Homo sapiens: one gene and its partners. The protein of the gene in region 4 interacts with the protein of the main gene of each other region in a biochemical or structural test. Each region holds a gene or a part of one and is shown on either strand. Other genes may lie near its edges. The genes, in order: DCP1B, DCP1A, NBDY and EDC4.

The links.
Region 1: the proteins of EDC4 (region 4) and DCP1B form a complex in vitro, tested with the Homo sapiens proteins (one study listed by BioGRID).
Region 2: the proteins of EDC4 (region 4) and DCP1A form a complex in vitro, tested with the Homo sapiens proteins (one study listed by BioGRID).
Region 3: the proteins of EDC4 (region 4) and NBDY form a complex in vitro, tested with the Homo sapiens proteins (one study listed by IntAct).

What each region holds. Positions count from the first base shown.
Region 1 is NC_000012.12:2,001,071-2,009,660, forward strand, and holds the start of DCP1B (mRNA-decapping enzyme 1B), read right to left. Parts: upstream 3,388-8,590; 5' UTR 3,362-3,387; coding exon 3,212-3,361; intron 1-3,211. UniProt on the Homo sapiens protein: May play a role in the degradation of mRNAs, both in normal mRNA turnover and in nonsense-mediated mRNA decay. May remove the 7-methyl guanine cap structure from mRNA molecules, yielding a 5'-phosphorylated mRNA fragment and 7m-GDP.
Region 2 is NC_000003.12:53,282,929-53,288,543, reverse strand, and holds the end of DCP1A (mRNA-decapping enzyme 1A), read left to right. Parts: intron 1-260; coding exon 261-479; intron 480-883; coding exon 884-964; 3' UTR 965-5,115; downstream 5,116-5,615. UniProt on the Homo sapiens protein: Necessary for the degradation of mRNAs, both in normal mRNA turnover and in nonsense-mediated mRNA decay. Removes the 7-methyl guanine cap structure from mRNA molecules, yielding a 5'-phosphorylated mRNA fragment and 7m-GDP.
Region 3 is NC_000023.11:56,723,888-56,731,973, reverse strand, and holds the start of NBDY (negative regulator of P-body association), read right to left. Parts: upstream 2,732-8,086; 5' UTR 2,621-2,731; coding exon 2,414-2,620; 3' UTR 2,385-2,413; intron 1-2,384. UniProt on the Homo sapiens protein: Promotes dispersal of P-body components and is likely to play a role in the mRNA decapping process.
Region 4 is NC_000016.10:67,875,768-67,883,802, forward strand, and holds part of EDC4 (enhancer of mRNA-decapping protein 4), read left to right. Parts: intron 1-177; coding exon 178-334; intron 335-720; coding exon 721-832; intron 833-1,105; coding exon 1,106-1,205; intron 1,206-1,449; coding exon 1,450-1,639; intron 1,640-1,741; coding exon 1,742-1,889; intron 1,890-1,973; coding exon 1,974-2,078; intron 2,079-2,398; coding exon 2,399-2,508; intron 2,509-2,592; coding exon 2,593-2,676; intron 2,677-2,768; coding exon 2,769-2,864; intron 2,865-2,969; coding exon 2,970-3,072; intron 3,073-3,189; coding exon 3,190-3,370; intron 3,371-3,469; coding exon 3,470-3,542; intron 3,543-3,644; coding exon 3,645-3,736; intron 3,737-3,819; coding exon 3,820-4,007; intron 4,008-4,082; coding exon 4,083-4,204; intron 4,205-4,295; coding exon 4,296-4,449; intron 4,450-4,789; coding exon 4,790-5,223; intron 5,224-5,308; coding exon 5,309-5,413; intron 5,414-5,497; coding exon 5,498-5,650; intron 5,651-5,729; coding exon 5,730-5,766; and 15 more. UniProt on the Homo sapiens protein: In the process of mRNA degradation, seems to play a role in mRNA decapping. Component of a complex containing DCP2 and DCP1A which functions in decapping of ARE-containing mRNAs. Promotes complex formation between DCP1A and DCP2.

The DNA of each region.
Region 1 (8,590 bases), on a different chromosome or scaffold from region 4:
CACTACTCAGATCTTTTGATGAAAAAACGTCAGGCGCTCTATGACACCTGGATAAAAGAGACTTTGAAAATATACATTTCTGTTCTATTACAGCTGCCCAAATTCACGCATTTTCCTGGCCCCTCCATAGTTATCCAAGGGCAACCAGATTTTTTTTTTCTTTCTGAGCAAAGTCCAGGGTTAGGGATGTGGAGAATAGCTAAAACAAGATTAGATGTTCCTTAGATCCTTTAAGGAGGACTTTTATGTGAAAGTATTAGTTACCAGTCCTGGGGTATTTTAGCTTAAATTTTAAAAGTACAATTTGAGGATTTAATATTATACTGTATTATAAAATCTAACAAGTGCTAAAGAAATAAGCAATTCAGAATTCAAAATACTAAAAAACCCAAAATGGAATATAAAATAGTGCTGTTTTGCAAATTTTGGGGACTCTGCACACTGTCTGACACAAACTAGCTCAACGCAATCTCTATTTTAACTTGATTATTCTCAGTTAAAATAATCAAAAAGTAGGTCTCAACTTATCCTCCCAAATCTCTCTTCATCATGCATGTAGCACGTGAGTCACCTATGAGGCTTTCAACAATATGAAATGCCTGGGTCTCATTATCCAGAGGTTTTAGTTTGGCATTTTTCACTTTTAAAAAACTCTGACTTATTTGGATACACCAAAAACTTAGAAAACCACTAGCTAGGAACACAACGTTAGTCACTTTAGGGCAGTTTTCAGGCTCAGCATTCCCTGGCCTCTACTCTATAGATGTCACAACACTCTTCCCTTCAGTGTGACAACCAAAAACGTCTCCAGACACTGCCAAATGTCACCTGGGGGCAAAATCAACTCCAGCTGAGAGCCACTGGTCTAAGGACTGACAGCTGGAAAATACCAGGGTTATGGTCTTCAATTGACACATAGGTATTAATATTTTGGAGGCGGGGGGCAGTCTTTCCTGGCAACAGGGAGTAGGTCTAACTCTAAAATTCCTATTCCAGTCATCACATAATCTTTCTTAATCCTTCTTTAAAGCAGTTCATTTTCTAGACACCTTTCCTTCCTAATTTCTCCTCCTTTGAAAGGCTGAAGTCATTCTTCATCCATTTTCAGGGCAATAAGAATTCCCCTCCTTAAGATCCCCCCTGCCTTCTTGTAAATACTTTCTCCTCTATTCTCAACAATGTTCTCATATTCTTATTAGGTTTACATTCAAACGGCTCCCATCCACAGTGACAGCACATGGAGACAGTGGTCATAATTAGTTTGCCTCCAGCAACTGCTCTGCAGTTGAACTAGGTCTCTCTGTTTTTCTGGCTACCACAGCCTTGAAGATTAGAACTTTGAAAGAATGACCTTTTCCTGAATGAATTATGCCCTGTCTGAAGGCAACATATCCAGCAAGCAGGAAAACATAACTCCTGTAATTAATGCATTGTGACACATCTGCTTTTTGATGAGGCTTTAGGTATCTAATAAACATCTGTAACTATCTTAAAAAGGTATCTATCACATTGATAAGGGTCAAAAGCCTATAGGAAACAACTATTATTCAAGAGAAATGCTCTACTCTCTTTATACTGACAGTTTCTTGGGATTCTCCAGACTCGAATCCCAGTGTCAAGTCAACTTACAGAACTATACATCCCTGGTCCTCATCTCTCTACTACGGAATTACTTTTACAGGATTATAACATTATACCTTTAGCATTTTTCTACAGAGCAGCAAAATAGCCATATGTAGAATATCTTTTTATATATTTTTAATTACCATGGAGGAAACTGTCTATGTTGCTCAATGTTCTTTATGTAAAAACGAAGGTGACACCTCGAAAAAACAAACAAACAAAAACAAACAAAAAAAGTAGGTGACAAATTCCCCTGGAAACTAGGGGGAAATAACCTCTTTCTCCTGATCAAGAGGTACACTTTCTATTACAGAAGAACGAATATTAAAGAGCTCTTCCTGTTCTCCTTTTGTGTTTGGCTACTAGGAGAGCAGACCTAAATTCTTTGCCCCATTCCGGCAAATTTCCTCCGTTAAGAACTTTGGGCAAAACTGTTTGTCTACCCCATTCTTGCTTGTCTTTTTATTTTTATGTTAATGATTTTCAGGTGAGTTTTTTACTACAGGCTGCTGAACTATACTGCAGATAAGTAGGCTTATGAATGTGGGTGTTAAAAAAAATACAGAGTTGTTCAACATGGATGTTTTCCTAGATTAAGTTTTGATGTTTATACAACCGACTTGAAGAACACAAAAAGTTTATCTGAAATCCATTCATCAAGGCTAAGTTCTCCATACTGTTTTGTAACTTATTTTAAAATGATGGATATCATGTATGTGATACATAATGGATGATGAATATTATTTGGACAAAACTCATTATGAGTAAAGAAACAAAATTACATGTCTCTACATTCGAGTGGGTGGGTTACAAAATTACAAGCAGCAATCCCTGCAACAGGATTCCAGTGTTCTAGGCTTCTACCCCATTCTAACTATGAGGAAAATGAAATTTCATTCCATTACCATTTACTGGGACTCTGCTTTGAGAAGAGCACTAAAATAATTTGGCTCCCAAATGACCTCCAATATCGAACTTGGTGTGCTGCCGTGTAATAATCTTCCCAAGAGCATCAGCTTCCTTCTAAGTGTTAGACCCTGCCCCATTTTGTCTTTTATTTGACGAGGTTGGCTCTTTTCTTGGTGTTTCCCCTTAAGTTTACAACTTGCAGATTTCTCCCCTTCTATCAAGTTTTGATTTCTCTTTGCCCCATCTAAGACTGACATTCCAAAATCAGAACTCTGCACTTTTATTCGTCTGCTGTCCCTGCCTCCCCCATAGCCACAGATTCACTGTAACAGAACTCTGCTCTACTTTCTCGAGCACATCGGTCTTCCGGCCATAAGGTATCAGGTCCTTCCTTTCCTTCGGCTCTTATGGTGCCGTACCCGATCGGTCTGGTCTCCCAGCGTTGGGTACGTTAGAGATTTAAGTCTTTTCCCCAACTCCAGGTAGCTCCACAGATCCGCCTTCCTTCCCCCAAACCCCCGAGACCCCATCTCCACAACTTCGGCCTCAGTCCCCAGATCCACCCACTTCCAGGGCGTCAACGTCTCCTCCCCCTCACCGGGTCCTCAAGTCCTGAGTCTGACGCCCCCCGCCTCCACCCCAACCCTGGGCTGCACTGCTCCGCCGCGTCCGCACGCACCCACTCGTTGGCCCGATGGCCGAAGGTGTACAGAGCCACCTGGCTGGCCACGTCCACGATGCGGTTGATATAGGGGTCGTGGCGCTGCAGGGCCGCTAGGCTGATGTCGCGCCCCTTTCCCACCAGGCCGCCTGCCGCCACGGCTGCCATCTTCCCTCCCTCCCAGACATAGGCACGGGGCTCTTGGAAGCCACTCTCAATAGATCGCAGAACGAGCGAGCTGCCTCGCAACCGAGAACCCACGGCGACCACACGGCCCGGGAGGCCTTCCGGCTCCAGTCACCCCCACCCTCCTGCCCGCCGACAGACGCAAGGCCTCACTAATCGATGGCCGCGCCCCGCCCACTGAGGATCGTTGCCACTGGCAACGACAAGCCCAGGCCTGCCCTCTGCATCCCGTTTCTTTCTCCAAGAGCTGTTTTTCTACGCGCTCGAGCCTTTGAGCTGTGTGTGCGGTAGGATTTCCTTCTTGGATGTGTTCGACCCCTTGGCATATCTTTTCTTTGGCGCTTCAGTGATCAAATCTATCACAATAAATAAGCCTCGAGCATCAAGAACTCTGAAGAGAAAGAGAACTGAATTGATTTCTGAATGCGCTAACACCCAGTGGTTCTCAAAGTGTGGTGTGGTCCTGGAACCCTTTGGGAGTTTCTGAGACCCTTTCAGGGGATCTGCAAGGTCAAAAAAAAAACAAAACCTTTTATGACAATGCTGAGACTTACTTATTTGACTTGTTCACTGTGGTGACGTTTTGCAGACAATGGTGGTTAAAAGCGCCGGTGGTTTAACCCAATCAAGGCAGGGGCACCAAACTGTATTGCTAGTCAAAGTACGCGTCACTAATCTGCACTCTCAGTTACAAAAGAAAAAAAAAAAAAGAAGAAGGTAGAGAGCCAGTGTCACCTGATGGTGTTCTTGATAAGCAGTAAGAATTATTAATTTCATTGAAGCTTAATCCTTGGGTACAATTCTTTTTAACATTCTGCATGAAAAAATAGGAAATAGGCATAAAGCACGTCTGCTGCAAAATGAAGTGTGTCATATTTGTCTCTAGGAAAATACTTCTGTGCTTGAGTTGTAGGCCGAATTCATGTTTTTATTTTTATTTTCATAAAACATTTTTACTTGAAAGAAAGATGGGCAAACTATGATTATTCAAACAGGTACTTGACAGACATTTTTCTGAAAATAAATAAAGTGTGCCTGTCACTTTCAGGAAAACAAGGGACAATTACTGCTGCCAATGATAATTTTTAAGCCTTCAAGCCAGAATTAAAAGTTTAGAAAATGTGTATCTACTGCCATGAGCTTGACATCTCAGTACTTAATGTTTTTTTTTCTGATGAGATCAGTGATGATATTAATGAGCGCAATTTTAACAAATCTTGTATAATGGAAAGTGTCAATATCTCAAAGATCTGCTTAACTCAGTGGTCCAGTATTTTCCAAAAGACCAATGTCTCATGCTACATAATCATGCACAGGCAAAAGATCCATTCAAGGACAAGGTGGACTAATGGATTTTTAATGTAACAGTATGAAAAGTTAATAGGATTTCAGATAGTACATTGCAGCTAAGCTTTGAGAAACTCCAGCTTGTCAAGTTTTGGTATATTATCCAAGAAGAATATCCACAATTGTCTGAAAAACTCTATTAAAATATCCATCTCTTTTCCAACTACATTATCTACATATGAGGCCAGAGTTTCTTCATATACTCCAAACAAAACACACATAGCCCGGGGTCTTTAAAGTTATTTTTAATTTCCAATATGGTAAATATAGGTGGGTATAACTCACATAAACAAAAGTTCTCTGAGGGAGTCCTTAATAATTTTTAAGAGTGGGCCAGGTGCGGTGGCTCCTGCCTGTAATCCCAGCACTTTGGGAGGCTGAGGCGGGCGGATCACAAGGTCAGTAGTTCAAGACCAGCCTGGCCAACATGGTGAAACCCCGTCTCTACTAAAAATACAAAAATTAGCCAGGAGTGGTGGCAGGTACCTGTAATCCCGGATACTCGGGAGGCTGAGGCAGGAGAATCGCTTGAACCCGGGAGGCAGAGGTTGCAGTGAGCCGAGATCCTGCCACTGCACTCCAGCCTGGGTGATAGAGCGAGACTCCATCTCAAAAATAAAATAAATAAAAAGTAATTAAAAAAATAATTTTTAAGAGTGTAAAGGAGTCTTGAGACTAAAAAGTTGAGAATGGTTGATCTAAACCATTTATCTAGCATTAAATATTAGAACAACTGTGCAGACATTACTACTCACATTCATAAATTCTTACCTATTTGATATAGAAATATCATAGATACGGCACACATACCCTCTCATAATAATATGTTGCAATATAATCTTTGCAGTCACAATTTCAATTGTACTGAAATTCTTGGTTAAGCTGCATTTTGGAGTCTCAGTCCTATTGACTCCCAAGCCTAACTTCCCAGTGGGGAAGAATACAGCAATGGCTTTCAAACAACTTTTTTTTGACTGAGGCTGGGGTCATTTGCAGTCTGACTGAGAACATATGTTTATATATTTATACCTGATATTAACTAGAATAAATGTTTCAATACTAAGTATACAGACATTTTTTAAAATGCTATTTGTGACTTTGTAAATTGGTTTCATGACCAACTAATGGATTGTGACCTGTAGTTTGAAAAACATAGGGCTGCAGCAACTGAGCAACCACACAAAGCTGACTAGACAACTTTCCATGTTAGTTCACTACCTTTTTCCAGTGTTACTGACCTCTTTGCTCTTAATCACATATGTGCTTCTAAAAACAAGTTTAATCTGTAATATGGGCAATGGAGAATTTTGTGATTAATTCTTGAACTAGTCACACTCTCTCACTTGATTAGCTGTTCTAATTTTGATTTTTCAGCATGAACCCACAGATTCTACTTTGCATTTCCCTCGTACATATAATGAGGCATTGTTTTTCTTTTGTCTGTTAAGTTCCATGATCCTTACACAGATCATTGTCCTCATAATTTTTCAGTCTTTCCATCTTTAAAGTGTAAAGAATAGATCATGGCCTCCAAAGAACGAATTGCTTTGAGCTCATTAGAGAAGACAGGCAATATAGGGGCCATTGTAAAAGCTTAAATGTTCATAAAACAAAAGTGTATACAAGTCTTAGTGATCTGTATGACTACAATTGCAAAGCATTTATGGAGTGCTCACTTGATGAAATTCATTAATTCTTCATGATTTATTATTGCTTCTTGTGTCTGTGCTGAAATTACATGGTCATGTCTTCTCCAGTCTTTGATCTCACTGATGAGTAAGATGAAGATACCCTTACTTTGCTTACGGGGAAAATTTCACATATGTGAACAACATGCTAATATGACCCTTAGTAGAGAAGAGTTAATTTTTTGTGTGTTTAGAGTTAATGAAACAACCCATCTTCTGTTCTAACCTCCTTGTATCTGAACTCTTTTCTCCCAAGTATCTTACACATTCCTATCTCTGTACCTTTGCCCATCTGTCTTCTTAGCTTGGAATGACCTTTTCCTGGAAAACTCACCTCCTGTCTTCTCCCATACAATCCTTTCAGCCTATGAATCCTCATTGCATTCTGTTGCGATTTTTCTTGTGGCACTTAGCTCACTTTATCCTGACTTAGACTTATTTATTTACTACGTTACATATACATTTTTTTCCAATTCTAAAAAAAAACAGTCATTGTAATAAAAGAGAATTGTTATAGAAAATCTAGCCTGAAAACATTATTGCAATTGAACAAGAAATTGGGCTTTGAGTTTCTTGACAGATAAGCAAAAAGGAGGAAATAGTATGTTTCATAAAGTTTTACTTATTTATTTATTTATTTATTTATTTTTTGAGACAGGGTCTTTCTCTGTCGCTCAGGCTGGAGTGCAGTGGCACAATCACAGCTCACTGCAGACTTGACCTCCTGGGTTCAAGCACTCCTCCCACCCCAGCCTCCCAGGTAGCTGGGACCACAGGCTGGTGCCACCATGCCCGGCCAATGTTTTTTATATTTTGTAGTGATGGGGTCTCACTACGTTGCTCAGGATGGAGATGTTATTTTTCATGTTTTGTAGTGATGGGGTCTCACTATGTTGCTCAGGATGGAGATGTTACTTTTTATGTTTTGTAGTGATGGGGTCTCACTACGTTGCTCAGGATGGAGATGTTATTTTTTATGTGCTTATCACCACGTAGTCTCCCTAGCACTTGGTCCAATGCCTTGTACATAATAGAGATTCAATAAATGCTTATTCTTTTGAACTAAACCCTGAGTTAGTTGAATTTACTCATTAAATGTCAGCATTTTTTAAAGAGCTCATGATTTATAAAATAATGAAATCCAAGTTGGGATAAAAAAACGTGCAATAGCAAGTCCTGTTCTCTCAGATTTTATATTCTAAGGGAGATAGAAAAACATGGAAAGGTTTTTGGTTTTTTAACTTTCAAACAAAAAACTCTTGAAGATTAGAAATCATACTCAGAGAAAAAAGATAAATAATGTTGCAATGACTTCAGCATTGCCATATTGTTCATCTCCCTGGCCCACAGAGATTTATTTATTTTTTATTCTTTTTTCCTCCCCACAAAGGCCTAAAGCTCTGACCTTCTAGGATGACGCCAGCCTTCTGCCTTCTTTCTATTTGAATAATCTGTGTTTGTAAAACCAGGTCATCATCACTTAACCAAATATACTAAGTTGCAGGCTCGATATTAGTAAAAGACCATTTCGAATAGGCAAATTCTTTTTTAATCCGTGTAACTTCCATTTCTGTTGGCGCCCAGAGTGCTGGCGTACTTCCACTGTGTTTCCATAAGCCTCATGATGATACCTTGGACAAATATTGGTGACTTCGAGTTTCATGATTATATTATAATTGTCATTATGAGATTAAACATATGCTCACACTTGGTTTTACAAAGTTGGATACTGCAATTTAAAACAAGTTTGTAGAATGATAAAAAAATAATGTTTGGGTCTGGAATTTTTATACCATGGCAATGACTGAGTAAGACAAAATTCAGCATCTAATCAATTAAGGTAATTGTAAGAAGACAGTATGTTTAGATTCTTTGAAAATCAGAATATAACTGAAAACTGGTTTTGTAGGCATGAATGAATGTTTGCATACAAATATAGATTGACTATATCATCACAATTTTAAAACACAAATACACAGTCTGCTTTATTAGTACTCTTTTCTTTGTTGTGTAAATACCCTCTAAGTCTGGCATTTGTCCTGTAGTAGAATATGTTAGAATGGAGAGGAAGAGAGGAGCTTTCAGGATGCCCCTAAGAATTTGTGATTCTGAGATGACTTAGCCTCTGATGCTATGCTTTTGCCATCTGTATGAGTTGCCCTTTTTTTGCTAGGAA
Region 2 (5,615 bases), on a different chromosome or scaffold from region 4:
CTGTGGTGGTTGGACTTGGCTTCCCGTAATGATTCTAGGACATTCTTACATAAATGGGCTGGTCATCCTTTAGCTAATGGAAGTTTATAACCAGATGTCAGATGTTCACATGTTCCTACTGAATGTTTACCTGAACTCAAAATAGTCTGTCTCTGTGCTCCACTCTTCTGCTGCTTATGCCTGTTTCCACATGGTCCCTATTCTGGGCCTGGCTACTGGCTTCTGCACTTCGGTACAAAATGACCATTGTCACTCTCCAGGTTGCAGGCGCCCCACTGGTTACTGCAACGACCACTGCAGTGTCTTCAGTCCTGCTGGCCCCAAGTGTTTTCCAGCAGACAGTTACAAGATCTTCGGACCTTGAGAGGAAAGCCAGCTCCCCTTCTCCTCTAACTATTGGAACGCCAGAAAGTCAGAGAAAGCCTTCCATTATTCTCAGCAAGTCTCAGCTCCAGGATACATTAATACATCTAATAAAGGTATGTAGGATACCAATTTTATCTTTGATTTTTCATTATTTAATGAAAGAAATTTTATAAATTCCTCTTACAGAATCAGTTCATAAAGTAAATTCAAAAGACTAGCTGGAGGCCAGGCAAAGTGGCTCACACCTGTAATCCCAGCACTATGGGAGGCCAAGGCAGGCAAAAAAAAAACAAAAACAGACTAGCTGGGAGTACTGTTTCTCTTTTTTTAAGCATACAGTCCTGGTGGAGAAATATCTGCATGAACTCAAAATATTAATCATGATTGTCTCTGGGTGGTGGGATTATCAGTTATACAAATCATTTATACAATTTTTTTCCTAAGCTGTTACCAAGGAAGTAAAATCTGATGAGGTAAATGTGGCATTCGTATCCTTAACCTTTACCATCTCTTCTAGAATGATTCCAGCTTCCTCAGTACACTTCATGAAGTCTACTTGCAGGTTCTGACCAAGAACAAAGACAACCACAACCTATGACTGGAGCAGAATAAGTCTAAAGGCAGAGCCCCAGCCTCAGAGACAAATAGGCTTCATCATGGAAACTTCTGAGCAGAACATTGAGTTTGAGAATCCTGAAATTGAGCCTATGAGAAAGAGACTCATTTCTTAAGAATGTTTTCCAAGTGACATTCTCAGTGATAATGGAGGTTTCACTGTGAAGCATCACCAGCAGATCCTTGTTTTGACAAAAAAAAAAAAAAAAAAAAAAAAAAAGAGAGCGATCATTGTGTTAAGTTATGTGGGTGTTTTCATCAGCTAGGAGCAAGGCTGTGGAATAAGGAGTCAGATTCTCAGCTTGCTTTCACTTTCAAGGACTTACAGAGGAGTAGTCACCAGCCTCACAGCAGAAGTTCAGCCCGGCCCCCACCGCTTCCCCCAGCCTACCCCATAGAAACGGGCTTTGGGCTGACAAGTCAAGTTTTGAACAGAGTAGAAGGCAGCTCTGCAAAGTAGCTTCTAGTTTTTAGGACCAGAATTTAAGCCGGCAAATTAGGAATTATTTCCTCAAGTGAAGTATATTTTATATGAATGCCCCATTTGGGCCTTAAAAGTTGTGAAATTTCTTAATAGCATTTTGTTTTTAAGTGCCCCAGTCCTGCCCTGCAGCAGGCCCCCAGTGCAGCATTACCATTTGAATAGGGCACTGTCAGGCTCTGGTGGTGTGGACACAGGCATGTCATACCTTTGAAGGAAAGGCTGGGGCTGGGAATGCCCACATCCTATCAAATCTTCATTTTAGGTTAAACTCTCCATTGGTTCTGAAAATGCTAAGTTTGTGTGTGAAGCACAGCCTTATTTTCCTTTTCTGTCATTGTTGATTGTTTTCCTTAACACTTTGACAAAAGGACCAGTGGACCAATCTGACAAAGCCATTCTGGTTCCTTTCCTTGAGTGTACTGAGAATAGTTTTAAAGCTATGCAGAAAAGGGAGCTGTTATTCACACTGCCCTTATTTTGTTGTAGAATTATGGAGTTAAAAGAAAATGTGATTCCGAACTCTACCAATGTATTCCTAGGCTGTGAGTACTTTCCCGGCCCAAAGTGTGAAAATATGTAAAGAAGCTTTGTTATGCTGCTATTGATCTGCCATGATTTCTATTTATTCTTTTATGGCATGTAATGGTGTTTAGTAATATTTTAATGTAGATTTTGATTTATTTCAGCAATAGTAATTTTAAGATATTCTTTGAATGAAAGTGTCTTCGTTTCTATGATACAGGTCATTTTGTAGTATTTAACCAATTAAGATGCACTGCTTACTTTTCTGAGCACTATTTAATGATGGGGTAAAAACCCAATTGGCTCAACCAGCTAGCATAAGGATTAGCTGTGAATAATGCTGACAGATATGATGGTTCCTTAGGAACAATCATTTAAGCTTTAATGGTAACTCAATCATAAGTCCATAGATTATTTTTTTCTAGCTAAAATTTTAGAAAATTACTTGTGAATTACATACTTGTTTTAGTTTGGTCTTAGTTTTTAGCATAAAGAATGATTGGCTTTTGTTGATCTAAACATGCTTCCTGGACAGGGTTTCTGCTTCTCATTTTAGTGTCTTCTATTGCTGTCTACCTAATTATGTGTGAATTGTGCAGAATTCAGGGAAGCTTATAAGTTTTCATGCTCAATTGTGAATAGTTTGTTTTCACAGATAGTATGTAAATTAAGCAACCAAAAATGAATTCCTTATGCATCATCTGGGAACGAGAAAGCTATAGTGGGATACAGAGTGTTGCTGACACCGGGAGATGGTGTCCAGGGAGCCACGTGACTTCCATAAAGTGGACGCACCAGTAGGTGTGATTGCACCTCAAGTGTAGTCTCAGTGGGCTTCGGTGAACAGACGAATCAAGGGATTCTTGAATCGAAATTATGCTTTTGAGTATGTAATATTATGAGAGAGTTAAGAGAGAATATCCTAAAGAGAGTCTGTGATCATACTAATTTTCACCTTTAATGCTAGGAATGGATATGATAGACAGTAAAGAGCATCTATGATAAGGCTTCCTTAGTGTGAAAGTAAACTTAAGTGCCCAAGTCATGGAGACTTGAAAAGGGTAAACCTGTTTCACCTCCCAAATTTATATATTCAAAGTATTTACTTAAAATTCAGAAGCCAGAAGTTCATGTCATGATTACCAGGAAGTTCAGGCCAGAATGAATCCCTAGAGAAGCCAGGCCAAGCCTGGATAATTGCAGCTGGATGACCCTGGCCCGAAAGTCACAGTTCAGTTGCCTTATTCCTAGTTCAGGCTTACTATCTAGAACCTCATGCTAGCTTAGGTTGCATGTTTACATTGCTGCAGTGTCTTTACTGGAAGCTTAGTTGGATCGAAATGGACACCGAGATGGAGATGCTTCTGGCTAGATTTCGCAGAACCCCAGGAGACCTGCATTTAGACCACTCTGTCCATTTGTGTGCCCACCCCCACCCCCAGGGTCTAAGTGTAGACTCCAAGAGGAGCAGCCCAGAGCTTGGAGGAGAGGTGTGTCTGGGGCACCACTGGTGGGTGGTGCTGCTCTTCTTTTTGTTGTAGTTAATGCGGTGTCTTTTAATGGACTCTCAGGCCTCCCAGACAGCCTTGTTCCTTTAAGGCAGAAGCTCTTCTTCATTGTGTACCTCCTGGGATTCATGAGGTGTGAGATTTGGCCTGCTTGACTTTGAATTCAAGTTTTTCAAGTGACTCTCAGTGTCAGAAGAAGCATTTCATGCTGTCCACATGTGGTATGTCCACAGCTCACCTTCAAAGGCTTAGATGTAGCCATCACAGAGAGTGGTATTTTATTAAGAACCCAAGTCCCAGCCTGACCAACATGGTGAAACCCCATCTCTACTAAAAATACAAAAATTAGCCGGGCGTGGTGGCACGCGCCTATACTCCCAGCTACTTAGGAGGCTGAGGCAGGAGAATCACTTGAACCCGGGAGGCAGAGGTTGCAGTGAGCCAAGATCACACCACTGCACTCTAGCCTGGGCGACAGTGAGACTCCACCTCAAAAAAAAAAAAAAAAAAAAAAAAAAAAAAGTCACGCTGGGCCCCTCTCTACAGGGGGACACACAGGCTTAGTTTAGTATATGTCTAACCAGATTTTGCATGTCAAGCATTTGTCCTTTTCCTGGCTTATGTTTTCTTGTAGAAATTATATAAACCCTATCAAATCCACTACTAGGTAAATTTTTAAACCATGCAGCTTTATTACTCTCCTCCCCCAAAGAATGTAGTTTGAAATTTTCTCATTTCCATAGTAGAGGCCCTAACTGCCATTGTATTACTAATAATGCAACATGAAATTGAAGGTGCCTAACTGCTCAAAAAACAAAATCAGCCATCATACTGTAACTCTGAGAGGAATGAGAGGTGGCACAGGCACGAGTGGGCTCAGCCCGTGTGAGTGAGGAGAACTGAGGAATCCTAGGGTGCGCATCCTGCATCCTGGCTGCACGTTTGCTGCAGAGTATGTTTTTCTTTCTTGCCTCCCTTCAGTTTTCTTCAGTTGCGTTCAGTGTATCTTCTGGAACCAATAGTGCCCTGTGTTCTCAAGTCTCTAAAATGCTAAGATCTGAGCAAAGTCAAGCAGCTTACACTAGGCTTTTTTACAGCTGTGCTTGAGAACATTTCCGAGTGGACCAGGGCCTTGAGGAGCCTGTTTTTCAGCAAATTCAACAGATGTGTGCAGTGATTCCCTCCGTTTTGTATTTGACACCTTCATTTAAAATGCTAAGATGCAATATCATTCACTTCAAAGTGGGGAAAATGCAGAATTGTGTTTCCTTTTTATCTGTGTGATTCCTTAAGAAACATGTTTTTAAAATATGTGTTCTAAATGGTTTTTTATTCTGTATTACTGCTTTGGCCATGTGGCTCTCATGACTTTCATTGTACCAGATTCTCAGCTCCCTGAAACATGGGGACGAGAAGCTCTGGAATTACAGCAAGATTTTTGTTCCATGAGCGCAATACTGTATCATTAACATTTTTAATGGTATGGATTTTATAGCATCTGTGTATGTTTGCAAATATTAAGTTATTACATGTTTTAAAATGAGCGTTTTTCATCTTAAATTTTATATGTTTGCAAATATATTTTTTTAATAAAATTTCAAAACCAAGTTTTAGCACCTACTAAAATTTAATTGTGTTTTTATTTAATTTGTAGAAATAGGGACTTTTGAATGAGTTGCACTTTTGCAGAGTGCCATACTGGTGAAATGGGATGAGGCAAAAAAACAGAACCGACAAAACTGTTATCAGATCCTTTTGTACTTCTTAAGCATAAGGATTAGGTGTTCACACACAGGTGTGAGATGGGCCATCCTGAAACATTGCTACAATGTCGGCATATTACCTGTCTGACACAGAGAAAAAAGAAAACTGTTATCTACCTGTTTCCAGCCTGTATAGTCAGGGTTCTCCAGAGAAACAGACCTGAGAGAAGATAGAGTTATGTACCATGTGATATTTCAGTCAACAACAGACCACATTTATGACAGTGGCCCCATAGAATTACAACCCTATTTTTACCCGACCTTTTCTGTGTTTAGATACACATATACTTATCCTTGTGTTACAGTTGCCTACAGTATTCGTACAGTCACATGCTGTACAAGTTTGCAGCGTAGGAG
Region 3 (8,086 bases), on a different chromosome or scaffold from region 4:
CATACCTCTATTTCAATGATTTATTCCTATAAAACAGTTGTATACATAGTATTAGAAGGGATGTATTATATAGAAGTTTAGAGCATAAACTCTGGAATCAGGTGTTCTGGGTTCAAAGCTCAGCTCAGCTACTTCTTGCTGTGTAACTTGTGGCAAGTCATACAACTTCCCTTGGTCTATACAAACTTCTCTAGTAGAGTTGTGATTAAATAAATTATAACATGCAAAGCCCTTTAGAAAATTGGCACATAAATCTTCAGTAAATATTGGCTATTATTACAATTATCAGTGATTTGAATCACTTGGAGGGGAAATTATGTAGCTACTGCACTTATTGTTTTGTTCTTTTGTTTTCTTTTCTTTTTCCTTTTTATTTTTTAAAATTATTTATTTATTTATTTTTTACACCGAGTCCCGGTCTGTCGCCCAGGCTGGAGTGCAGTGGCATGATCTCGGCTCACTGCAATCTCTGCCTCCTGGATTCAAGCGATTCTCCTAATTCAGCGTCCCGAGTAGCTGGGATTATAGGCACACAACACCATGACCGGCTATTTTTTTTTTTTTTTTTTTTACTTTTAGTAGAGATGGGGTTTCGCCATATTGGCCAGGCTGGTCTCGAACTCCTGACCTTAGGTGATCTGCCCACCTCAGCGGCACAAAGTGCTGGGATTACAGGCGTGAGCCACTGCGCCCGGCTGCTCTTTTGTTTTCTATCTGAGCAATTTTCTCCCTACTCCCTGCAACCTTCCACTCCACTACCCCTTTGAATAGAGGTAAACATGTGAGAAGTAAAACTGTATGGAATGACAGGGAGATGCTTTCAAGTAAAATAGATTTCTATTTTTTTTTTTCTATGCATTACCACCAAACCCAATGTCTAAAACTTTTTTGGTCGCCAAAGTTGTCCCATCATTCATTGATTTATTTATTGAAATATCTGTTTCACTCCTATTATGTACTAGGCACTATGCCTTGGCCATCCATCCCCTACAGCTCTCAGAATAATTCCTACCCATTGCAAGGGCTTCATAAAGGTTTACTGCACGAATGAAGAAAAGATGCTTCTCTCCTTTGAATTAAAAGGATCTATAAAACTTGGGTCAGATTCAGTTTTATAATTTGCATTCTATAAAGTTCATCTAAATATCAGAGATTCCTTTTCTGATAGTAAGAATAGGAATCTTAAAATACAAATAGTAGCACTTGATGGATATTGGAATGAAGTATATGCTCAGCATAACATTTAAGGCCCTGAAGCACTTTATCTTCACCTCCTAGTCCTTCTTGTAGATTCAAAATTATAGCCAAGCTGTTTCCAGAAGAATTCTGCCTTTTCTCTGGAAACCCTCGGCCTGAAAAGCATTCCCTGCCCCTCCACATGGCAGATGTCACTCAACCTTTAAGGCCCACCCAAAGTTCCTCCTTCCTTTTTTTTTTTTTTTTTTTTTTTTTTTTTTTTTGAGACGTAGTTTTTTGCTATTGTCGCCCAGGCTGGAGAGCAATGGCGCGATCTCGGCTCACTGCAACCTCTGCCTTCCAGGTTCAAATGATTGTCCTGCCTTAGCCTCCCGAGTTGCTGAGATTACAGGCGTCCACCATCACGCCTGGCTAATTTTTGTAACTTTAGTAGAGACGGGGTTTCACCGTGTTGGCCACGCTGGTCTCGAACTCCTGACCTGATCTGCTCACCTCGGCATCCCAAAGTGCTAGGATAATAGGCGTGAGCCACCGCGTCCGCCCCCCTACTCCTCCTTTTTGATGGCTCATGATTACTACCAGGCAGTGACTTGGTCCATCCTCCACCCTTCCTGAATACCTTGAACAAGCAAACATTATGGCACTTGGATTTGACTATCACATTGTAGCTTTAAAAAAAAAAATTCAACTCTCCTGCCTTACACAGAGAAAGACATACACTTCTGAAGGCTGGCCTTCAACAGATGCTTTTTATTGGCCTTGAACCAGCCTTTTTTTTTTTAACAAAAAAATTTTCCAATGCACGCAAAAGTAGAGAGAATAATATAATAAATCCCTACATATACATCACCCAGCTTTAAATTATCAACTCATGAGCATTTTTATTACACTTTCCCTCCACCTTGGCACCAATGACTTACTTTCAAGCAAATCAAAAGATTCAAGTCTATTTCTTAGAAAATATAACTACAATTATTTCATCTAAAATATTACAAATAATTATTTAATGTCGTTAAATATCCATCATTTCATTCAAGCATATTTTGTGAAAGAGCTGCTTAATCCCTGCATGTTATTTTTTCTATTTTGAAATCATGGAAAGAACAGGGAAAAGGGGAAGGAAATTTGTGAGAATGCATAAATAAGTTTCAAAGAGCCTAGATGTCCTAGATGAGAAAGAATCTGACCTGGTTTAGGGTGGGAGAAATTTATTTCTCTACTTCTCCGGAGGAGGAGGGTGCGACTTCAGGCCGGCTGATGCAGGAGGAGGTGCGGAGGGTAGAGTGGTACTACCTCCGTTGGGAGTTCCTTCCGGATAATCCCAACGCGGAGCGAGGAGGCAGCGCTTTTTTGGAGGCTTGGCTTCCCGTGCGTTTCCAGGTGGGAGAGTGGATCTCCCGGAGGCACAAGGTTGGTCTCCCATAAGGATTACAGAAACGGGTCGTCAGTTTTCTCCGGTGGGCCCTGGCAAAGCCAAGAGACCTGAGATGGCGGCGAGTCCCCTCCAGGCACAGAGCTGGCTTCCTCCTGTTTCGCTCTTACCGTATTTCCTGTATCCTGAGACGTACATCCCTTCTCCGCCTCCACCCCTCCTCCCTACCCCATTCTATTTTAATGTTTCTATTAGGATGGGTGTTAAAAACCGATGTCGTTATTTAATATAGTGTTTTTCCATCGCGCCCCACCCCCACTAAATGTAAATAAATTTATTGAGAATTTAATATAATTTATGCAATTTTAAGATGAGAAGAAATTCAAGTTTACCTTTAAGTGGTAAACTCTGAATGGCTTATATGTGTGGGAGGGACGCGGGGGTGGGCGGTAACCAAATAAATTATTGAAGAGCTTTACAAGCCAGCTGCAGATGCACATCACAGAGCTGTGAAACTAGCTACAAACATTTAAAAAGCAATATGCAAACATGTAAGTTGACTAGAGTGCAGAATAGCACACTAGCACAAACCATGGAAATTGAATGTGGAAAATGAATTCACCGTATGTCATAGAATCTAAGATCATTTTTTCTTTATTTTTTAAGCAAATTTGTAATTTTTGAAGGCTTATTATGTTTTTCCCCAAATTTGAATATCTAGGAAATCTCTGCGACCTAACAATTGATGGTACACTATACTTTAGTTGGCAGCTTTTTTTTTTCTTTCTTGTAGGTATGGAAAATAATGACCCATCTTACTAGTGATGATATGTTATATTCTATGATTTATGGTAACCAGAAGAAAGTACCACGTGTCTCAGAAGAAAAGGCTTCTGGAACTTCTTAGACCTTCATTATTAAAATAGCCTACACATCCATCTCCCTTTAGCTATGGACAAACTAGATCACACTTCTTCAGCTTTGTTCTCAGTGCTTTTTGTTTGTTTTTTGTTTTTTTAAATGGAGAGAGCTTAGTCCTTAATGCCAGAGTAGAAGTGCCTGTTAAACTCTGCTGTTTACAAGCTCTGAGCTCTTTGAGTAATTATTTAAATTCTTGGAACTTTGGTTTCTAGGCCATAATTTTTTCCTTGCAAAGGTGTTTCCATAACCAGGGATAATACATGTAAAGCATTTACTACTATAACTATCTCTTATCTCCACCCTTCTACCTTCCTCCAAGTAACCAGCACAGCCCTTTACACAAATTAGGTACTCAGTAAATATTTGGGAAATAAATGACCCCGTGGTTTTGTGCCAAATGCTACTAATAAAGACAGAAAAGTCAGATGTAGCTGTAGCTTAATGAAAAGATGTGAGGGAGGCATTGAGAGAGGCAATATTTTAGAGCTAGAAGAGTAGTTGGAACTAGACATACTGATGTGGGAGACAGCAACATAGAGGTGATAGTTAAAGACAAGGGAATGGATTATATCCCCAAGAGAAAATCTAAAGGAAAAATAATTGAGCTAAAAACAGAATATTGAGTAATTAGAGACAGATAGAAGAAAAGAAGTCTGCTGCAAAGGCTGAGAAAGAGTGGTCAAAGTCAGCGAAGAAGATTCTAACCCAGAGTTTCTCAATCTTGGTGCTATTGACATTTGAGGCCAAATCAATCTTTGTAGTGGTTGCCAGAGTTTACCGTTTAGCAATGTCCTAAGCTAAGCCTCTACCAACTATATGCCAGTACTACTCCCTACTCCTCAAGTTGTGATAACCAAAAAGATTTCCAAACATTGCCAGATGTCCCCTCGGGTACACAATTGTCCCCAGTTGAGAACCATTGGTCTATCCTTAATCCACCAAATTTGCTCCTTTCCTAGTTTTTTTTTTCTTTCATCTCAGTGAAATGTTATGCCTTCCACTCAGATATACAAGTCAAACTTTGGAGTCTTTATTTTTAGAAACTGAAGAATATTTTATTATTTATTCAAGTAAATGAAGTAACAATTTCACAGTCTTTTTACATAGGTCTCTAAATCTTCACGACTAAAGACATTAAGAGTTGCAGTTAAGTCGTTCTATAGCTATAGTTTTAGCAAATTAAGAGAAATATGTGCCTCGTTAGTAAAGTAACAGGAATTAAAAATTTTATCAACTCCAGCTAGGTTTAATTTACGGTAAACATTTGACTTGAGGTGAAAACAGTCCCAACTTAGAGTTGCTTCTATCAACATTGACTATTTATACCACAATTAGATTTATTTATTTATTTGTTTATATGCTTTGTGGTAAAGCATACATAACATAAACTTTACCATCTTAACATTTTTTAAGTGTACAGTTCAATAAGGTAAAGTATATTCTCATTGTTGTACAACCAATCTCGAGAACTTTTCCATACCTATCAAACAACTCTCCATTTTACCCTCCTTCCAGCTGCTGGAAACCACCATTATACTTGCAACTGGAATTTTGTTTGTTTTCATTATATTAAAACGGAGATCTAAAGCCTTTATTATTCCAGGTTTCAAAACAGGTTTTTTTTCCATCATCTTTTTTTTTTCAACATCAGTGAACCAGCTGAATGTGAATCATGAAGCCAGAAGAGGGCACTGTTAGGTTGGAGGAACATAGAGGCCAATTTGAGAAGTGCTACAGATCCAACTCTCATAATTTACAATGATCAAAAGATGACAATAGAAAATAAAACTAAACCCACCTCTGAGTGATAGTAAATGGTTTTCATTTAGTTTTTTAAATTGAGAAGTTGGGTGATTAATTTGATTTCTTTTGAAAATTAGCTTTTCTTTTTAAAATTTTCTTAATTTTTAAATTTTTTTATTTCTATAGGTTTTTTGGGGAACAGGTGGTATTTAGCTACATGAGTAAGTGCTTTAGTGGTGATTCGTGAGATTTTGGTGCACCCATCACTCGAGCAGTATACACTGAACCCAGTTTGTAGTCTTTTATCCCTCATGCCCCTCCCACCCGTTCCCTGAGTCCTCAAAGTCTATTTTATCATTCTGATGCCTTTGCGTCCTCATATCTTAGATCCCACTTATGAGTGAAAACATACGATGCTTTGTTTTCCATTCCTGAGTTATTTCACTTAGAATAATACTGTCCAGTTCCGTCCAGGTTGCTGCAAATGCCATTAATTCGTTTGTTTTTAAGGCTGAGTAGTATTCAATCATATATATATATATACACACACACACACACACACACATACATATATATATAACAATATTGTTATATATATATAACAATACATATATTGTTATATATATATAACAATACATATATTGTTATATATATAACATATATTGTTATACATATATTGTTATACATATATATAACAATTTTGTTATACATATATATAACAATATTGTTATAGTGTATATATTTATACATATATGTGTATATGTTTATACATATATATGTATATATTTATACATATATATGTATATATGTATAAATATATATATGCATATGTGTCTATATACCCATATATGTGTATATGTATATATACACATATATGTACACACATATATGTACATATATGTGTATATATACATATATGTGTATATGTGTATATACATATATGTGTATATGTGTATATATGTATATATGTTATATATATGTGTATATATGTGTATATGTGTATATATGTGTATATATGTTATATATGTATATATACATATATTGTTATATGTATATATAACAATATAACAATATTGTTATATGTATATATAACAATATAACAATATTGTTATATGTATATATAACAATATAACAATATTGTTATATGTATATATAACAATATAACAATATTGTTATATGTATATATAACAATATAACAATATTGTTATATGTATATATAACAATATAACAATATTGTTACACACACACACACACATATATATATATATGTATAACAATTTTGTTATCCTCTCGTGTGATGGGCATTTGGGCTGGTTCCATAGTTTTGCAATTGTGAATTGTGCTGCTATACACTTGCATATGCAAGTATCTTTTTCGTATAATGACTTTTCCTCTGGGTAGATATGCAGTAGTGGGAGGATTGCTGGATCGAATTGTAGTTCTTCTATTAGTTCTTTCAGGAATCTTCACACTGTTTTTCATAGTGTTTATACTAGTTTACATTCCCTCCAGCATTGTAGAAGTGTTCCTTTTCAATGGCATCCACACCAACGTCTATTATTTTTTTGATTTTTTGATTATGGCCATTCCTGCAGGAGTAAGGTGGTATCACATTGTGGTTTTGACTTGCATTTCCCTGATCATTAGTGATGTTGAGCAGTTTTTTATATGTTTGTTGGCCATTTGTATATCTTCTTTTGAGAATTGTCTATTCGTGTCCTCAGCCCACTTTTTGATGGGATTTTTTGTTATTTCTTCTTACTGATTTGTTTGATTTCATTGTAGATTCTGGGTATTAGTCCATTGTCAGATGCATAGATTGTGAAGACTGCCTCCCACTCTCTGGGTTGTCTGTCTACTCTGTTCGCTCTTCCTTTTGCTGTGCAGAGGCTCTTTAGTTTAATAGTCCCACCTATTATCTTGGCTTTTGTTTTAATAGTCCCACCTATTATCTTTGTATTTAGTCCAACCTATTTATCTTTGCTTTTGTCGCATTTGCTTTTGGATTCTTGGTCATGAATTCTTTGCCTAAGCCAAAGTATAGACGGATTTTATCAATGTTACCTTCTATATATATACATTTTTTTTTTTGAGACGGAGTTTTGCTCTTGTTGCCCAGGCTGGCGTGCAATAGCGTGATCTCGGCTCACTGCAACCTCTGCCACCCGGTTTCAAGCGATTTTCCTGCCTGAGACTCCCGAGTAGCTGGGATTACAGGCATGCGCCACCACCCTCGGCTAATTTTTTGTATTTTTAGTAGAGAAAGGATTTCTCCATGTTGGTCAGGCTGGTCTCAAACTCCCGACCTCAGGTAATCCACCCACCTTGGCCTCCATGGTGCTGTCATTACAGGCGTAAGCCACCGCACCCAGCCATCTTCTAGAATTTTTATAGTTTCAGGTCTTAGATTTAAGTCCTTGATCCATCTTAATTGGATTTTTGTATAACCTGAGAGATGAGGATACAGTTCCACTTTCCTACATGTGGCTTGCCAATTATCCCAGCACCATTTGTTGATTAGGGTGCCCTTTTCCCACTTCATGTTTTTGTTTGCTTTGTCGAAGATCAGTTGGGGGTAAGTATTCGGGTTTATTTCTGGATTCTCTATTCTGTTCCATTGGTCTCTGTGCCTATTCTTATACTAGTACCATGCTGTTTTGGTGACTGTGGCATTATAGTATAGTTTGAAGTCAGGTAATGTGATGTCTCGGGATTTGTATTTTTTGCTTAGTCTTGTTTTGGCTATGTGGGCTCTTTTTTAGTTACATATGAACTTTAGAATTGGTTTTTCTTTCTGTGAAGAATGTTGGTGTTATTTGGATGGGAATTGCGTTGAATTTGTACTTGCTTTGG
Region 4 (8,035 bases):
TGCCTACATCAGTGTTTATGGAACGAGAGATGAACACAGGGCCCTCCTCCTCATGGACATGCTTTGCTCAGTTGAGTGTTCCTAGAGCACCTCATAGTTCTTGAAGGAAACTCTGAAAGGGGAGAGGCTTGTGGGCAGGTCGAGCAACCTTATCAGAATGACCCTCTTTGTCCCCAGGCCCCAGTGCAGAGAGCCCACGGCCATCCAGTGCCTACAATGGGGACCTCAATGGACTTCTGGTCCCAGACCCGCTCTGCTCAGGTGATAGTACCTCAGCAAACAAGACTGGTCTTCGGACCATGCCACCCATTAACCTGCAAGAGAAGCAGGTCATGTGAGTACCTAGGAGACGACAATAGTGGTGATGGTGTATTTGGGGTGTCTGCTAGCTGAAGGCATGAGATGGGGAGTGAGCGGGGCCAGCAGCCTCTGCTGCTTCCTCTCTAGATGACCTGGGGTGGAGCTTGAGCTTGCACTAGGATGAGAGGCAAGGACAAGCTCAGGGGTTTGGCCTGGATACCTGGTTTAGAATGAAAGTAGGCTCATTCCCAAGGAAGGAGATGAGCAAGCAGAGCTGTGGGTCTGGGGCCAGTGGACCAGGCGAAGCTGACATTGGACTAGATACCTTCCCCAGTCTGGCTATGTCCTCGCTTCCTCCCAACCCTGCCCGCTGAGCCTTTGGGTGAACAAGAGGCAAAGTTTTTGCACTCTTCCCCACAGCTGTCTCTCAGGAGATGATAGCTCCACCTGCATTGGGATTTTGGCCAAGGAGGTGGAGATTGTGGCTAGCAGTGACTCTAGCATTTCAAGCAAGGCCCGGGGAAGCAACAAGGTAGGTACTGGGATGCTGTGGCATATATAATGTACGGGGGCACACCCAGCCTTTCCAGTCTCCCTCATGCTGCCAGTTCCTATGGGGACCACCTTGACACTTTCCCAGTTTCAGGAAGCCAGGGCTGGGTGCCAAGCCTCTGTGGGAGTCTGGCTCCAGGAGGTAACAGTGGGTAGCTGGACTTGCATCTGTGTCCTCTCCCATCCCCAGGGATGTTGGGGGCCACCTAGGCTCTGGGGAAGTTCCATGACTTTTCTCACCCTGGGTTCTCAGGTGAAAATTCAGCCTGTCGCCAAGTATGACTGGGAACAGAAGTACTACTATGGCAACCTGATTGCTGTGTCTAACTCCTTCTTGGCCTATGCCATTCGGGGTGAGTAAAGACAGTGAGGAGGAAGGAATGTTCTGCTGGATGTCCCACAGAGCCAGTTCCAACATCAGGCCACTCAGGCCTTAGGGGTACAATGGAAGGTTTGTCCATGCTGCCTCTTGGGGAGCTGGGTGGGAAAACCAAGCTTGAGACTCTGGTGGTGGCAGGGAGACAGGTGGGGCAGCGCTTCTCTGCTACTGCCTGAGCCTGGATACGTATTCATGGTCCACTGCTCTCCTGATTCCAGCTGCCAACAATGGCTCTGCCATGGTGCGGGTGATCAGCGTCAGCACTTCGGAGCGGACCTTGCTCAAGGGCTTCACAGGCAGTGTGGCTGATCTGGCTTTCGCGCACCTCAACTCTCCACAGCTGGCCTGCCTGGATGAGGCAGGCAACCTGTTCGTGTGGCGCTTGGCTCTGGTTAATGGCAAAATTCAGTATCCATTCCTTCCTGTGGGTGGTGGGACTGAAGAAGGGTGGGCGGAGCTGGGGTGTCACGCCTCTTCATTCATCTATCTAGCCCTTAACACCCTGCTCAGAGAAGAGATCTTGGTCCATATTCGGCAGCCAGAGGGCACGCCACTGAACCACTTTCGCAGGATCATCTGGTGCCCCTTCATCCCTGAGGAGAGCGAAGACTGCTGTGAGGAGAGCAGCCCAACAGTGGCCCTGCTGCATGAAGACCGGGTGAGGGGGCTGACATGGCGAAGAGGCGCCAGAGAAGCCATAGTGTGGGGTTGGGCTGCACACTCACCTCCCTGTGCCTTCCAGGCTGAGGTGTGGGACCTGGACATGCTCCGCTCCAGCCACAGTACCTGGCCTGTGGATGTTAGCCAGATCAAGCAGGGCTTCATTGTGGTAAAAGGTCATAGCACGGTAAGCCTGTGACTGCCTGCCTCCCCTGCCCTCCCCACTTCCTCATATCCATCTTCTGTTCCCTATATCCACAGCTGCCCGGGCAGCTTTACTAGCATTCTGCCCGTGGGGACTCTGAGCTCAAATTGGCCCTCACCTGTGCAGCTTTCTCCTTATCTAGCAGCACCCTGCAGGTCTGGCCTTCTCTAGGAACCCTGTTCATTTAGTCAGTCACACAAGCATGCCAGTCCCACCGTGAGTCAGCCCAGCTCATTGCCATCCTCACTTGGGAGGGGCTTGTTCTCACCTCTAGTCAGCAAAGCTTTTTGGGTTCTTTCTAGTGCCTCAGTGAAGGAGCCCTCTCTCCTGATGGGACTGTGCTGGCTACTGCGAGCCACGATGGCTATGTCAAGTTCTGGCAGATCTACATTGAGGGGCAAGATGAGCCAAGGTAAGGCAGGGCCTCAGGGACCAGGATCCTCCCGAGGTAGCCCACCCGACCACTCACTCAGGCCCCTCATCTGCCTACCTGCAGGTGTCTGCACGAGTGGAAACCTCATGATGGGCGGCCCCTCTCCTGCCTCCTGTTCTGTGACAACCATAAGAAACAAGACCCTGAGTGAGTGAGTGGGCAGCCTAGTGGGTGGTGGGCTGGACCATGGCTCCCAGCAGGGGCCCCAGCCAGTCACTCACTGCCTTGTTGCCTTGCAGTGTCCCTTTCTGGAGGTTCCTTATTACTGGTGCTGACCAGAACCGAGAGTTAAAGATGTGGTGTACAGTATCCTGGACCTGCCTGCAGACTATTCGGTAAGCAGTGGCTGGAAGGCTGGGGGACTGGGCAGGGGCGGCAGGGTTGGGAATGTAGCTTCCTTCAGTTCTCAGGCTCATTCACTCTGCTTTGTGGCTCTCTAGCTTCTCCCCAGATATCTTCAGCTCAGTGAGTGTGCCCCCTAGCCTCAAGGTTTGCTTGGACCTCTCAGCAGAATACCTGATTCTCAGCGATGTGCAACGGAAGGTAGGCTGCCATGGGGTACCCTGGGCAGAGTTGGGATTATAGAGGAAGGCCGGGGGGCAGGTGGCGCATCACAGCCCTTAGCCTCTGAGCTCAGCTAGGAACGTTCTGCCTGTGCAGGTCCTCTATGTGATGGAGCTGCTGCAAAACCAGGAGGAGGGCCACGCCTGCTTCAGCTCCATCTCGGAGTTCCTGCTCACCCACCCTGTGCTGAGCTTTGGTATCCAGGTTGTGAGTCGCTGCCGGCTACGGCACACTGAGGTGCTGCCTGCCGAAGAGGAAAATGACAGCCTGGGTGCTGGTGAGCTGCCTCAGGGTCAGAGCTATGTGTCCATATATCTAGGGGGTTGTGGAGGCACAGAGAGGGCCAGGGGCTTCATCATCCACACTGTCCTTTCAGATGGTACCCATGGAGCCGGTGCCATGGAGTCTGCGGCCGGTGTGCTCATCAAGCTCTTTTGTGTGCATACTAAGTGAGTGAGTGGGGAGGCCCGCCAGTGTCCTGTCTGTGTCTGTCTCCACTCTACTGACCCTTGCCCTTGGAGCACTTTATTCTCCCCCTTCTTTTCCTGCAGGGCACTGCAAGATGTGCAGATCCGCTTCCAGCCACAGCTGAACCCTGATGTGGTGGCCCCACTGCCCACCCACACTGCCCACGAGGACTTCAGTGAGTAGGGCGTGAGAGGGAGGTAGGGTAAGTTGGACTGACCAGGGTCTGAGATCTAACTCAAGTGGCAACTTGCCCTGCAGCATTTGGAGAGTCTCGGCCCGAACTGGGCTCTGAGGGCCTGGGGTCAGCCGCTCACGGCTCCCAGCCTGACCTCCGACGAATCGTGGAGCTGCCTGCACCTGCCGACTTCCTCAGTCTGAGCAGTGAGACCAAGCCCAAGTTGATGACACCTGACGCCTTCATGACACCTAGCGCCTCCTTGCAGCAGGTACTCTCCCAGGGTAGGGGGACCTGGGAATGCCTCAGCCACAGGCCACAGGTCTTATTTCCTGCATCTCCCCAGATCACTGCCTCTCCCAGCAGCAGCAGCAGCGGTAGCAGCAGCAGCAGCAGCAGTAGCAGCAGCTCCCTTACAGCTGTGTCTGCCATGAGCAGCACCTCAGCTGTGGACCCCTCCTTGACCAGGTGAGGCAAGGGTCAGAGATGGAGGATGGCAGGGGCTGGTACCAGATGATGCCAAGCTCTGGCTGCTGACACCTCAGCCTTCCCCCACCAGGCCACCTGAGGAGCTGACCTTGAGCCCCAAGCTGCAGCTGGATGGCAGCCTGACAATGAGCAGCAGTGGCAGCCTTCAGGCAAGCCCGCGTGGCCTCCTGCCTGGCCTGCTCCCAGCCCCAGCTGACAAACTGACTCCCAAGGGGCCGGGCCAGGTGTGTGACTGGGTGTGTGTGTGAAGTGTGGGGAGCAGGTGGGCAGCAGCAGGGAAGGTGGGTGGTGGGCTCCTCCCAGCCCCCTGCTGCTGATCCTGCTCTACCCGACATGGTCCGTGTTTCCCTGAGGTCATTTCACCCTCCTGTGTTTCCTGGTGGGTGTCTCCTCAGCCTCCCTGTCCCCACCTCCTCTTCTTGGCTGTGGCCTCGTTTTTGACCTGTATCCCCACTTCCCTGCTGCCCTGTCTCTCATTACTGCTAATACTAATGCCTCGTCTCTGTGCCCCCCATCTCTGCCTCACTTCCTGTCACTTAAGCCCCCATCTTTGGCCCACCTCAGGTGCCTACTGCCACCTCTGCACTGTCCCTGGAGCTGCAGGAAGTGGAGCCCCTGGGGCTACCCCAAGCCTCCCCTAGCCGCACTCGTTCCCCTGATGTCATCTCCTCAGCTTCCACTGCCCTGTCCCAGGACATCCCTGAGATTGCATCTGAGGCCCTGTCCCGTGGTTTTGGCTCCTCTGCACCAGAGGGCCTTGAGCCAGACAGTATGGCTTCAGCCGCCTCGGCACTGCACCTGCTGTCCCCACGGCCCCGGCCAGGGCCCGAGCTCGGCCCCCAGCTCGGGCTTGATGGAGGCCCTGGGGATGGAGATCGGCATAATACCCCCTCCCTCCTGGAGGCAGCCTTGACCCAGGAGGCCTCGACTCCTGACAGTCAGGTTTGGCCCACAGCACCTGACATTACTCGTGAGACCTGCAGCACCCTGGCAGAAAGGTGAGGAGCTTGGGAGGGGAAAAGTGTGCTAGCAGGAGGGGCTTCAGATAGATTCATCCATGGCTAAGTTGGCCTGTCCTCCCAGCCCCAGGAATGGCCTTCAGGAAAAGCACAAGAGCCTGGCCTTCCACCGACCACCATATCACCTGCTGCAGCAACGTGACAGCCAGGATGCCAGTGCTGAGCAAAGGTGGGAGCCACTCTACACCATTGCCCTCATGGGGGGATGGGCAGCAAGTGGGCAGGGGCTTACTCCTCCTTCCCCTTCCCACAGTGACCATGATGATGAGGTGGCCAGCCTTGCCTCTGCTTCAGGAGGCTTTGGCACCAAAGTTCCTGCTCCACGGCTGCCTGCCAAGGACTGGAAGACCAAGGGATCCCCTCGAACCTCACCCAAGCTCAAGAGGAAAAGCAAGAAGGATGATGGGTAGGGAGAAATCCTAGGGAGGGAGAGGGTGGTCTCTAGGCTGCCTCACATAGCCTGAGGTGCTTCTCGCCTATGGCAGGGATGCAGCCATGGGATCCCGGCTCACAGAGCACCAGGTAAGTGAATGAGCCCACTTTGTACTTGTGGAACTTCACCCTGGGCGGGTGGAGAAGGGCTCTGGGCCATTCCCTGGTCTGGTGTGTGGGAATAGGTGGGGCAGGCATCGTGTGACTGTCAGTGCTACTGACAGGTGGCAGAGCCCCCTGAGGACTGGCCAGCACTAATTTGGCAACAGCAGAGAGAGCTGGCAGAGCTGCGGCACAGCCAGGAAGAGCTGCTGCAGCGTCTGTGTACCCAACTCGAAGGCCTGCAGAGCACAGTCACAGGCCACGTAGAACGTGCCCTTGAGACTCGGCACGAGCAGGAACGTATCCTTGAGACTGGTAGCACAACATGGCATAGGGACGGGGGCAGCATTCTTGGCCTGGGAAGGAGTACACGACCTGCTCCAGGCCCGTTCCTTAGCTATGGCGCAGAGCGGCGGCTGGAGCGAGCACTGGCTGAGGGGCAGCAGCGGGGAGGGCAGCTGCAGGAGCAGCTGACACAACAGTTGTCCCAAGCACTGTCGTCAGCTGTAGCTGGGCGGCTAGAGCGCAGCATACGGGATGAGATCAAGAAGACAGTCCCTCCATGTGAGTTTTGCATGCAGACTCCCTTTGGGTGGTTCAGGTGGGAGTGGGGTACCTGTCAAGCTTCTTCTCATGGCTCCACCTCACCCTCTTCCCCTCTCCCAGGTGTCTCAAGGAGTCTGGAGCCTATGGCAGGCCAACTGAGCAACTCAGTGGCTACCAAGCTCACAGCTGTGGAGGGCAGCATGAAAGAGAACATCTCCAAGCTGCTCAAGTCCAAGGTGCTATAGGGCCCAAGATGTGGGTGGAGGTGGTGGTTCCTGGGCCTAGTCAGGCCAGGCTGGGCTCAGGCTTTCAACTTGGCCCCTCCCTCTAACCCCAGAACTTGACTGATGCCATCGCCCGAGCAGCTGCAGACACATTACAAGGGCCGATGCAGGCTGCCTACCGGGAAGCCTTCCAGAGTGTGGTGCTGCCGGCCTTTGAGAAGAGCTGCCAGGCCATGTTCCAGCAAATCAATGATAGCTTCCGGCTGGGGACACAGGAATGTGAGTGGGGTCATATGGCCCAAGGTGGGAGGGGTTATCCTCTTTCCTACTGTTCCTCTTATAGTCCCTGTGGTCACCCCTCAGACTTGCAGCAGCTAGAAAGCCACATGAAGAGCCGGAAGGCACGGGAACAGGAGGCCAGGGAGCCTGTGCTAGCCCAGCTGCGGGGCCTGGTCAGCACACTGCAGAGTGCCACTGAGCAGATGGCAGCCACCGTGGCCGGCAGTGTTCGTGCTGAGGTGCAGCACCAGCTGCATGTGGCTGTGGGCAGGTGTGTGGGCAGAGTACTGGGCAAGGTGGTGGGCTTGAGAAAGGCCAGACTAGGCTCCCTGTCCACTTCACCTCACTCACTTCCCTTTGCAGCCTGCAGGAGTCCATTTTAGCACAGGTACAGCGCATCGTTAAGGGTGAGGTGAGTGTGGCGCTCAAGGAGCAGCAGGCCGCCGTCACCTCCAGCATCATGCAGGCCATGCGCTCAGCTGCTGGCACACCTGTCCCCTCTGCCCACCTTGACTGCCAGGCCCAGCAAGCCCATATCCTGCAGCTGCTGCAGCAGGGCCACCTCAATCAGGCCTTCCAGCAGGTACGATAGGCATTAGGCCCTGCTAAGGGTCACGTGTCTCTTGACAAGGCCCACATACCATACATTCTACTCCACCCACCACCTTTGCACCTTCTGGCCCCAGCAGACTGTTCTTGGTTCCCTTTGGCCTCCAGGCCATTGTCCCTGCTGCTTCCTCTTCCTGGACCCCTTTCTTCCCACCTAGCCCACCTTGCTTTACAACTACCCTTCTCAGGAACCCATTTCCCAATCCCCTAGGGTAACTACACAGCCCTACAGGCTCTCTCTGAGTCCCTCTGGAGCTCTCACTAGCCCACCCTGTGGTCATCCTCCCCCAGGCCACACAGTTCAGACAAGCAGACATTCCATCCTGATATTTGCTATAAACACTGCTGCTTTTTTCTCCTCCAGGCGCTGACAGCTGCTGACCTGAACCTGGTGCTGTATGTGTGTGAAACTGTGGACCCAGCCCAGGTTTTTGGGCAGCCACCCTGCCCGCTCTCCCAGCCTGTGCTCCTTTCCCTCATCCAGCAGCTGGCATCTGACCTTGGCACTCGAACTGACCTCAAGCTCAGGTAAGTGGGGACAGCCAGGGATGGGGAGATGAGCTGGGGAGTGGGGCAGTGGGAGGGAGCAGTTTGAAGCT